2 separate regions of the Homo sapiens genome follow, and region 1 is linked to region 2. The links come from fine-mapping of genetic effects on gene expression. Tissue or cell type: hypothalamus. Region 2 holds a variant in brackets; the other region holds the start of a gene. All regions are shown on one strand. Distances are between the middles of the regions.

Evidence for each region. PIP is the estimated chance that this variant, and not a neighbour inherited with it, causes the effect.
Region 1: it holds the start of LINC01546, and the variant in region 2 is the best candidate, but not a certain one, in a credible set for the expression of LINC01546 in hypothalamus (GTEx, PIP 0.65).

The regions. Positions count from the first base shown.
Region 1 is chrX:3,269,645-3,275,025 of GRCh38, forward strand. It overlaps LINC01546 (long intergenic non-protein coding RNA 1546), which reads left to right and starts at 2,176. Exons shown (of 3, transcript NR_038428.1): 1 at 2,176-2,274; 2 at 2,653-2,728.
Region 2 is chrX:3,127,686-3,133,066 of GRCh38, forward strand. No RefSeq gene overlaps it. Among named protein-coding and RNA genes, the nearest start is that of ARSF, 89 kb to the left of the region's middle. The variant C/T (reference allele first, on the strand shown) is at 2,202.

The sequences.
Region 1 (5,381 bases), 140 kb after region 2:
CATGTAGTTAATACCAATGGGTAGAAACCAATTGAACTGATTCCTGAAGAAATAGAGCACTCGTCAATTAGCTTTGGATGCATACGCTTGGGGTTTTGAGAGATGCAGATAGAGCATCTCAACTTGGACCCTGACTCATGAGGGTGCTTCGTGCATAATTTAGGAGGTCCGAAATGATGATGAAGATGAGGAAGGAAAAAGTAAAAAAAGAACAACATAAGAAGGATTGAGAAGCTCCTATAATTACCTAACAAGTCTGAGAAGATCAAATTTTAATATTTTTCCCAATGCAGTATGTTTTCCAATATGACAGATACACAGAGCGGACTCTGCACAGTAGAACAAATCTTTACTTTAGCAGATGTACTAATTGGATCTGTTTACATGATTCCTCCTCCTTCTTCTTCTTCCTCTTCCTCTTCCTCCTCCTCCTCTTCTTCCTCATCCTTCTTCTTTCTTGAAGACAGGGTCTTGCTCTGTCACCCGGGCTGAAGTGCAGTGGCGAGATGATAGCTCACTGCACTGTTGACCTTCTGAACAAAAGCGATCCTCCCACCTCAGTCTCCCAAATAGAATGTATATCTTTTTTTTTCATTTTCATAAAAAAAGTAGAGATGAAGTCTCACTATGTTGCCCAGGCTGGTCTTGAACTCCTGGGCTCAAGCAATCCTTCCACCTCAGCCTCCCAAGTAGCTAGGACCACAGGCATGTGCCACCACACCTGGATAATTTTTTTTTTTTTGTAGAGATGGGGCCTTGCTATGTTGCCCAAGCTGGTCTTGAACTCCTAGGTTCAAGGGATCCTCCCACCTTGGCTTCCAAAACTATTGGGATTACAGGCATGAACCGAACCACTGTGCCTAGCCAGTTTGTGTGATTTTTATGTCTGTTTAGCATCGCAGAGTCCTGCAAACTGCAAACAGACTAGTTCTATAAGAACAAAGTCTCCTTGTCCTCATTCAAAATATCAGATTCTATGGTAGCTTCGGGAGATGTGGGGCCTGTCGTACTCACAGTTCCCTTCCCAACTTGTCTAAAAGCACAGCATTAAAGTAACAGGGTCTTTGCATCAGAGCACTTTCCTTTTTAGGATGGAAATTCCTCTTTAGATGTAACAGCCAAGTTCATCTCTGCGCCTGAACTCAGGCTTTCAGGATACACTGTATATTTTCTTCTTTTATTCATTGTGATGCTTTTGTACCAAACAGAGTCTGTTTCATGAAAACAAATGGATAAATTAAATAATCAATTGAGTCGTCTTATTTTCCACCAAATAAACATGTAGATCGACTCTGCAGTCGCAAATATGACCATAATACCTTCTGAGCAGTAAAGAAAGAGTGCGTGAGCTGCCCCTTTTCAAACTTTTTAACCCCCAGTCTCTGCAGTGCCAACATTTTGCAGAGACAACTTTCTTTTTACTAGGTCTTTCATTCGTGCCAGTAGCAGTGGGCTTATACTGGAAGCCCAGAGAGATCACATTTGTAATAGAACTGTTTGTGCCGAAAGAGAAATTATCCTTGTCACTTAGAGCTTGCTAGAGTAGCAGTAAAACCCCCGAGATGAATTACAGATCTAATAATGAGCTTCCTCTTCCTGTCCCAGTCTGTCTGGGGAATGGGGGGAGATGACAATGTCCGCTGTGCCTACAGACATCCCTCGCATTGATAAATCTGCTTCCCCCTGCAGCTCTTTCCAACATAGCATGTCTTTAATTTATTACCCCTTTGGCTTAGCTCAGGGATCACTGAGTTCTGCCAGCTAGCATGATGTTAAATCCATGCCAAGTTTATGCGTCCAGTATTTCCAGGTGGCTTTCGAGAGGGGTCGTGGAGACAGGCAAGAAAACACACAAGGCAGCATTGTGCAAATTCAGTGTCAACTCCTTACATCTGCCCCACATCCCTTTCTAATTCAAGGCCACTCAGCTGATTCCCGCAGAGACTTTCGTTCCACGGTGGCTTTCCACCGTCCAGTGGTACCTCTGTAGCTGCCCTGACTCACTGTGCCATCAAAAATCTCCTTCAATCAAACCAGCCTCTGAATGCACTCGACAAGGTCCTGCATGTTGAAGCCTGCAATCTGCAAATCTGCACCATCTTTCTAAAGCTGCCTGCTGCTTACATTTTGAGAGGAGGATGAGGTTAATTATCGGAGGTGGAAAATAAATATCACAGAGCAGCTGGACATGGGGGAGCTTGCAGCGTCAGCAAATCATGGACACTCACCCTGCTACCCAGAGAGAAAAGGGACCCCTGGAGACTTGAGCAAAAGGTTGAGTATTTATAAGAAATGCCTGTGTGGCACTCCGGGGCACCGGTAAATATTTCAGAGGCAGGCATATTTTCCATAACGGATGACTGTTTGGGTGGGCAGGAAGTGGAGTTGCTATGAGTAGTCAGAATAACATTCCAGGACTGTAAATGCTTAATGAGCGTGTGTGTGTGTGTGTGTGTGTGCGCACACAAACACACAAACACACACACACACACACAGAAAGCACCATCTTCCTCAAAGAGAGGAAGTCCTTCATTGTTGAAGAAACCAAAATAAAATGACTTGTGGTTTTCCCCATGTCCTCTTGCGTTGTAAGTAAATACCTTCATAGAGACTCCATTTCTCCAAACCCTATTTATTCCCCATTCTTTGCAGAAAAATGCTGGTACATTTTTACCCCAGGAGGCACAGCCACCCCAGAGCCACACAGCAATGGATACTTAAGAATAAGGTAAGGTTGAGTATTTTTACTTTTATTTTTATTTTTTGAGACAGGGTCTCCCTCTGTTGCCCAGGCTGAAGTGCAGTGGTGTGATCTTGGCTCACTGCATCGATCTCCTGGGTACAAGAAATACTCCCACCTCAGGCTCCCAAGTAGCTGGGACTACAGACATGCACCACCTGCCTGGCTAATCTTTTTGTATTTTTTTGTAGAGATGGGGTTTTGCCATGTTACCCGGGCTGCTCTCGAACTCCTGAACTCAAGCAATCCACTAGCCTCAGCCTCCCAAAGTGCTGGGATTACAGGCATGAGCCACCACACCTGGCCTCTTATTTGTAATTTTTAAACGTTTTTTTATTTTTATAGATTTAGGGGATACCAGTGCAGTTTTGTTACATGGAGAGATTGCAGAGTGCTGAAGTCTGGGCTTTTACTGTAACTATCACTCAAATAGTGTACATTGTATCCACTGGGTAATTTCTCATCCCTCACCTTCCTCTCCCCTCCCTCCTTTCCCAGTCTCCAATGTCTCTTATTCCACTGTCTATGTCCATGTCTACACAGTGTTTAGCTCCCACTTATAAGTGAGAACATGGGGTGTTTGTCTTCCTGTTTTGGAGTTGTTTCACTTAGGATAATGTCCTCCAGTTCTATCCATGTTGCTGCAAAAGTCATGATTTCATTCTTTTGGGGGGCTGTGTACTATTCCATGGTGACATGGTTTGGCTGTGTCCCCACACAAATCTCATCTTGAATTGCAGCTTCCATAATTCCCACGTGTTGTGGGAGGGACCCAGTGGGAGATAACTGAATCATGGGAGCAGTCTCCGTCATAATGTTCACATGGTAGTGAATAAGTCTCACGAGATCTGATTTTTTTTTAAATTATACTTTAAGTTCTAGGGTACATGTACACAACGTGCAGGTTTGATACATAGGTATACATGTGCAGGTTTGATACATAGGTATACATGTTGGTTTGCTGCACCCATCAACTCATCATTTACATTAGGTATTTCTCCCAATGCTATCCCCCCGCCAGACCCCCACCCCCTGACAGGTCCTGGTATGTGATGTTCCCCGCCCTGTGTCCAAGTGTTCTCATTGTTCAATTCCCACCTATGAGTGAGAACATGTGCTGTTTGGTTTTCTGTCCTTGTGATAGTTTGCTGAGAATGATGGTTTCCAGCTTCATCCATGTCCCTGCAAAGGACATGAACTCATTCTTTTTTATGGCTGCATAGTATTCCATGGTGTATATGTGCCACATTTTCTTAATCCAGTCTATCACTGATGGACGTCTGGGTTGGTTCCAAGTCTTTGCTGTTGTGAATAGTGCCACAATAAACATACTTGCGCATGTGTCTTTATAGTAGCATGATTTATAATCCTTTGGATATATACCCAGTAATGGGATTGCTGGGTCAAATGGTTATTCTAGTTCTAGATCTTTGAGGAATCACCACACTGCCTTCCACAATGGTTGAACTAATTTACACTCCCACCAACAGTGTAAAAGCATTCCTATTTCTCCACATCCTCTCCAGCATCTGTTGTTTCCTGACTTTTTAATGATTACCAGTCTAACTGGCATGAGATGGTATCTCATTGTGGTTTTGATTTGCATTTCTCTGATGACTAGTGATGATGAGCATTTTTTCATGTGTCTGTTGGCTGCATAGATGTCTTCTTTTGAGAAGTGTCTGTTCATATCCTTCACCCACTTTTTGATGGGGTTGTTTTTTTCTCGTAAATTTGTTTGAGTTCTTTGTAAATTCTGGATATTAGTCAGATGGGTAGATTGCAAAAATTTTCTCCCATTCTGTAGGTTGCCTGTTCACTCTGACAGTAGTTTCTTTTGCCGTGCCGAAGCTCTTTAGTTTAATTAGATCCCATTTGTCTATTTTGGCTTTTGTTGCCACTGCTTTTGGTATTTTAGTCTTGAAGTCCTTGCCCATGTCTATGACCTGAATGGTATTGCCTAGGTTTTCTTCTAGGGTTTTTATGGTTTTAGGTCTAACATTTAAGTCTTTAATCCATCTTGAATTAATTTTCATATAAGGTGTAAGGAAGGGATCGAATTTCAGCTTTCTACATATGGCTAGCCAGTTTTCCCAGCACCATTTATTAAATAGGGAATCCTTTCCCCATTGCTTGTTTTTCTCAGGTTTGTCAAAGATCAGATGGTTGTAGATGTGTGGTGTTATTTCTGGGGCCTCTGTTCTGTTCCATTGGTCTATATCTCTGTTTTGGTACCAGTACCATGCTGTTTTGGTTACTGTAGCCTTGTAGTATAGTTTGAAGTCAGGTAGCGTGATGCCTCCAGCTTTGTTCTTTTTGCTTAGGATTGTCTTAGCAATGTGAGCTCTTTTTTGGTTCCATATGAACTTTAAAGTAGTTTTTTCCAATTCTGTGAAGAAAGTCATTGGTAGCTTGATGGAGGTGGCATTGAATCTATAAATGACTTTGGGCACTATGGCCATTTTCACGATATTGATTCTTCCTATCCACGAGCATGGAATATTCTTCCATTTGTTTGTGTCCTCTTATTTCCTTGAGCAGTGGTTTGTAGTTCTCCTTGAAGAGGTCCTTCACATCCCTTGTAAGTTGGATTCCTAGGCATTTTATTCTCTTAGTAGCAATTGTGAATGGGAGTTCACTC
Region 2 (5,381 bases):
TTTCTCTTATGTTTTAGTGGAGAGAGAAATAACAGTACTAGTTCCTACTTCATTAGTACCAGGAGGAGTGTTTGGCAGTAGAAATAAAGGAACGTTAGAGGAAATTCCCCAAGTTTGGAAAGGAAGGAAGGATTTCCCGAGAAAGTGATGTTTGAAGGAAAATCTGATGGGTGAGTAGGGTAAGGGGTGGTAATATGGAGCATTGGGTCCTTCCTGGTAGAGTTTAGCAAGGAATGGAGTAGGGAAACTGTAACCATGAGATCAGGTTGAACCAGTTCAACTCAATTGTTTAAGCTGTTATACAGTTGAAACAGAACCAACATTGCATGTTGTGTAGCCTGGGCACAGGCAAAGGGAAAAAGCTTTGACCTCCAATCACACTGGAAACTGATGATGCTTCCCTATGGAACCAAAGACAGCTGGACATGACCAGAACCAGGATGCAGAAACCCATTCAGAAGCAAAAGGTCTACTCTCCCAGAAGACATTGTGCTGAAATCCACCATTCCATACCTTATTATAATAGCCAAGGTTAAAGCCCTTTGATTAAAACTTGCCGCACCAGCACTTCCACATACTTCTTTTTCTTTTCTTTTCTTTTCTTTCTTTTTTTTTTTTTTTTTACACGGTCTTGCTCTTTCGCCCAGGCTGGAGTACAGTGGCGTGATCATGGTGCACTGCAGCCTTGACCTCCTGGGCTTAATTGATCCTCCCACATCCACCTCCTGGGTGGGTAGCTGGGACCACAGGCATGCACCATCACACCTGGCTAGTTTTTGTATTTTTTGTAGAAATATGGTTTCGCTATGTTGCCCAGACTGGTCTTGAACTCCTGTCCTCCAGCAATCCTCCTGCCTCGGCCTCCCAAAGTGCCATCATTATAGGCATGAGCCACTGTGCCCAGCCACATACTTCTTAACCCATAAACATTTGAGCTAACTCCCCAGATCAGGGAGACAGATTTGAGCCCTGCCTCCTGTCTCCTTGCCAGTTGACCTCACAATAAAGTCTTAAAAAGAAAGAAAAAAGAAAAAAAAACCGGTACCCTACAGCACGGCGTGGTGGCTCACACTTGTAATCCAAGCACTTTGGAGGCTGAGGCAGGTGGATTGCTTCCGCTCAGGAGTTGGAGACCAGCGTGGGAAACAGCAAAACCCAGTCTCTACCCAAAAATACAAAAATTAACTAGGCATGGTGATGTGTGCCTGTGGTCGCAGCTACTCGGGGGGCTGAGATGGGAGGATTACTTGAGCCTGGGAGGCAGAAGCTGCGCTGAGTCAAGATCGTGCCACTGCACTCCATCCCGGGCAACAGAGTGAGACCCTGTCTTAAACAATAACAACAAAATCCCCAAAGCAATGCCCTAGTATTGGCTTATATACATGTCAAGCAGCAAGCCCATTGCTCAGTAACAAAATGGGTGACGCAACCCTGAAGAGCAGTAAGAACTGCAGTGTGGCTGGGAGACACAGAATGAGGTAAACGATGGCAAACATTGAGGACGGAGAGGTAGCAGGAAAGAAGCAACAAGTACAGATGATTCAGACCTCGTGGTCCGAGATGAGGAGCTTCTTCTTTATCCCAGGAACAGTGGAAAACCATGAAATGGGTCTACACAGAACACAGCGTGGTCAGGTCTATAATCTCATCTTCTACTGTGTCCAGAGGGTTTTGGACTAGAGAAGAATAAGGCTGGGAATTGAGGCGGTACAAGTTAGTGGGGTGTTGCAATCAAGAAAGGAAGAGATGATGAAATCTTCCACCTGGCTCCTAACATTATGAGAGCTGGCACGATGTAGACTGGTCCAGGAGCTATTTAGGGTCAAGCCACAAGACAGGAAGATTAAATGATTCATGATTAAATGATATTCGCAGCCTCCAATAAATCAACTTCACTATTATTCATCCTTGTTTTCTTGTTCCAGACCACCATCTCTGAGAAAGAAGTAGGATTATTGTCAGAAGTCTTCTTTGATCTTTTGTTCTTTCCTTTTTTAGGGGTTGGGGAGAAAGTCTCACTGTCACCCAGGCTGGAGTGTAGTGACGTGATGTTGGCTCACTGCAACTTCCACCTCCCAGTTTCAAGCAATTCTCCTGTCTCGGCCTCCTGAGTAGCTGGTATTACAGGTGTGCACCACCACGCCCAGGTAATTTTTGTATTTTTCATAGAGATGGAGTTTTGCCATGTAGGCCAGGCTGGT[C/T]TCAAACTTCTGGCTTCAAGTGATCCACCCACCTCCGCCTCCCACAAAGCTGAGATTACAGGTGTGGGCCATCACTCCTGGTTGCTCTATCCTTGAAGGGCTATAATGGAACCAACCAAGGAAAGAACATAGCAGCAAATGGCCACTCCTCACCTTGGTATTTCTGGGAATTTTATGAGGCTACTGTAGAAAAATGGTTTGATGAAATGAAGCCTGTGATCACCTAGTAAATTGTAGAGAAATGGCTTCCACATGTGAGGTTGTCCTTTCCCGAATACATGACCTTAAGGTGAAATGGATAAAACTTCTGGCTTGGAAAGGTAGTTAGTATAATTAGGACCATATTTATTTTTCAAATACAGAGTTGAGGACCCCTGTCGTTTTCTGTAATGCAAGTCTAAGTGGGCTCGGAGGGACTGTGAACTCTGGTCCTGGAACTGATTTCATAACCTGGGGCACGTTCATGGAAATATACGGTTGGAAGGGAGCTTGGACAGGTCTCTACAGATCCCACTGCTGATTGGTTTTGATAGAAGAAATCACTTACGTGCCTCTGTAGTTGACTCCATTTTAATAAGACAGCGCAGCTTCCTCTCTTCTCAGCTTTGAACATCTGTGGAGACAGAGAATAAGGATTCTCATGCCATCTTTTAATGATGCTTTTATAAAACTTTTGACTAGATCGCAGGGCTTGCCTCTACTTTTCTCAAGATGCATTAAGCATTCTTTCTTCCCATTTGCATTCACCAACCCCCTTAGCTTCTCTGTGTCCTCTCCAACCAAATATTTTTTTAAAAATAGGCATCTACACTTGACCAAAAGTTGAATACATGTCTACCTGAGGATACTAAAAGAGTTCTATCTTGATTTTCATACCTCTGACCTATATGTTATTTTGTCTTGTTAATAATCGTAACTTCCAGGCCAGGCACAGTGGCTCATGCCTGTAATCCCAGCACTTTGGGAGGCCAAGGCAGGAGGATCACTTGAGGTAAGGAGTTCAAGACCAGCCTGGCCAACATGGGGAAACCCTGTCTCTACTAAAAATTCAAAAATTAGCCAGGCGTGGTGGCACACGCCTGTAATTCCAGCTACTTGGGAGGCTGAGGCACGAGAATGGCTTGAAACTGGGAGGCGGAGGTTGCAGTGAGCCGAGATTGTACCATTGTACTCCAGCTTGGGTGACAGAGTGAGAGTCTGTCTCAAAACACACAAAAAAAACCAAACAAAACAAAAAACTACATTGTAAAGATATTCCATGAATGGGGTCATACTATTAGTAAATGTTTGGATCAACATCTGTAGTCCTTTTAGGAAGTAATAAGAAGGTATAAGAGGAGAGGAAAGAGATCTTTCATTGCAATCTATGTGAGGCTTTGGGTGTGAGCTAGGTTTCTGGGGTTTTCTCAGAGAGAAACAGCAAGAGAGAGAGAGGCATGCTTATATTCCATGCTGCCGAGAGTGGCAAAGATATGACAGCATTGCTTCAGCAGTAGTGGTGACATTGAGAGGGAGATGGTCGTAGGAAGTGAAGAAGGAGAATTTTCCCAGTGGAGCACTTTTTTTTTTTTTTTAATAGAGAAGGGGTCTTGCTATGCTGTCCAGTCTGGTCTTGAACTTCCGGCCTCAAGTGATCCTCCCACATTGGCCTCTCAAAGTGGTGGGATTACAGGTATGAGTCACCATGCCTGACCCACAGTGGAGCACCTTGGTGCTTGGCTATAAAAGTTATATTCCCAAGAAGCCCAAAGATGGAGAAAAAAATGTTTGTTGTGTTTACCAAAAACAAGGTGTCTGCTTTGTATATAACCCCAAGAGAGATCACCTGGCGGCCCCTCCCAAATATTTGGAGAAGAATTTGCAGAAAGTTCCAAGTCCTTCAAGAGTAAAGACACAAGAGTAAAAGAACACACCAACATTCATGATTTCAAAGTTTGATTTGCTCCCGAATCGAAAGCCAGTTTTTTCATTTTGATTCAGATCTATACGTTCACAAAAGCCATGCTCATTTTGCAAAACTCTTATGCTAAAAAGAGCGATGCTTCCTCCTTCTAAACAGAAACCCCTGTCTCTACAAGTGTCTACTTTTCCTACTTTCTGATAAAGGGAAGACAATCTACCCTGTCTGTTTAATTTTTTACATGCAGCCTCTCTGACACGTGGAATTGGGAGACTGGAGTGCCAAATCCGTTTTTTTCAGTGTGTAATTTTATAGCTTTCCCCAGAGCAAAAGAGGACAAGTCAGGCAAGCTGTAAAGCAGAGGGGAGGAATTTCATGGGACAATTTTATTATGCCATGAAATCAAGACAGAGTTTGATGCCAATGACCATCTTGGACAGGCAGGATGCAGAGAGAGATGAAGCCCGTGACCTGCAGAAGCGCACTTCGAAGAAGGCATGCTGCACCCCAGCCGTTCTCTTTGCCCTGAATGGTTCCTGCCTTATGGGACCAAGGAAACGGGTATTGCTAAAAAGGCAAAATTGGCAGCTTCCAGGAAAACTTCTGGAGGAATGTACTGAGGCCCCTAACAAATTAACATACGTTGGGTGGCTAAAAATAACAAGACTTTATTCTCCCCCAGTTCAGAACACCCGAGCCTGAGATCAAAGCATCTCAGGGCCACGATTCTCCAGAGGCTCTAGGGGAGGCTCCGTCCTGCCTCTCCCGGCTCCTGGGGGCTCCAGGCATCCCTGGGCTTGTGGCCGCACCACTCCAGTCTCTGCCTCCGTCTCCACATGGCCTGCTCCTCTGTGTCTGTGTCTGTGTTACCTCTTCTGTCTCTTATTTTATTGCATTTATTTATGTATTTTCTGCATCAAATCATCCATTGCTCTTCTGTCTCTTATAGGGACACCTCTCATTTGATTTAGAAATCACTGTGATCCAGTATGATTTCATGTCAAGATCCTTAACTAATTACATCTGCAAAGACCCTATTTCCAAATAAGGTCTCATTCCAGATTCTAGGCTTTAGGATATGGACAGATCTTTCTGGGGGCCACTGTTTAGTCCACTACATTTGTATTCACTTCCTTCCGGAGGCTCTAGGGGAGGATGCTTCCTGCCTCTTCCAGCTTCTGGGGGCTCCTGGCATCCCTGGGTTTGTGGCCACATCACTCCAGTCTCTGTTCCCATCTCCGCATGGCCCTTCTCCTCTGTGTCTGTCTCTGAGAATGGCA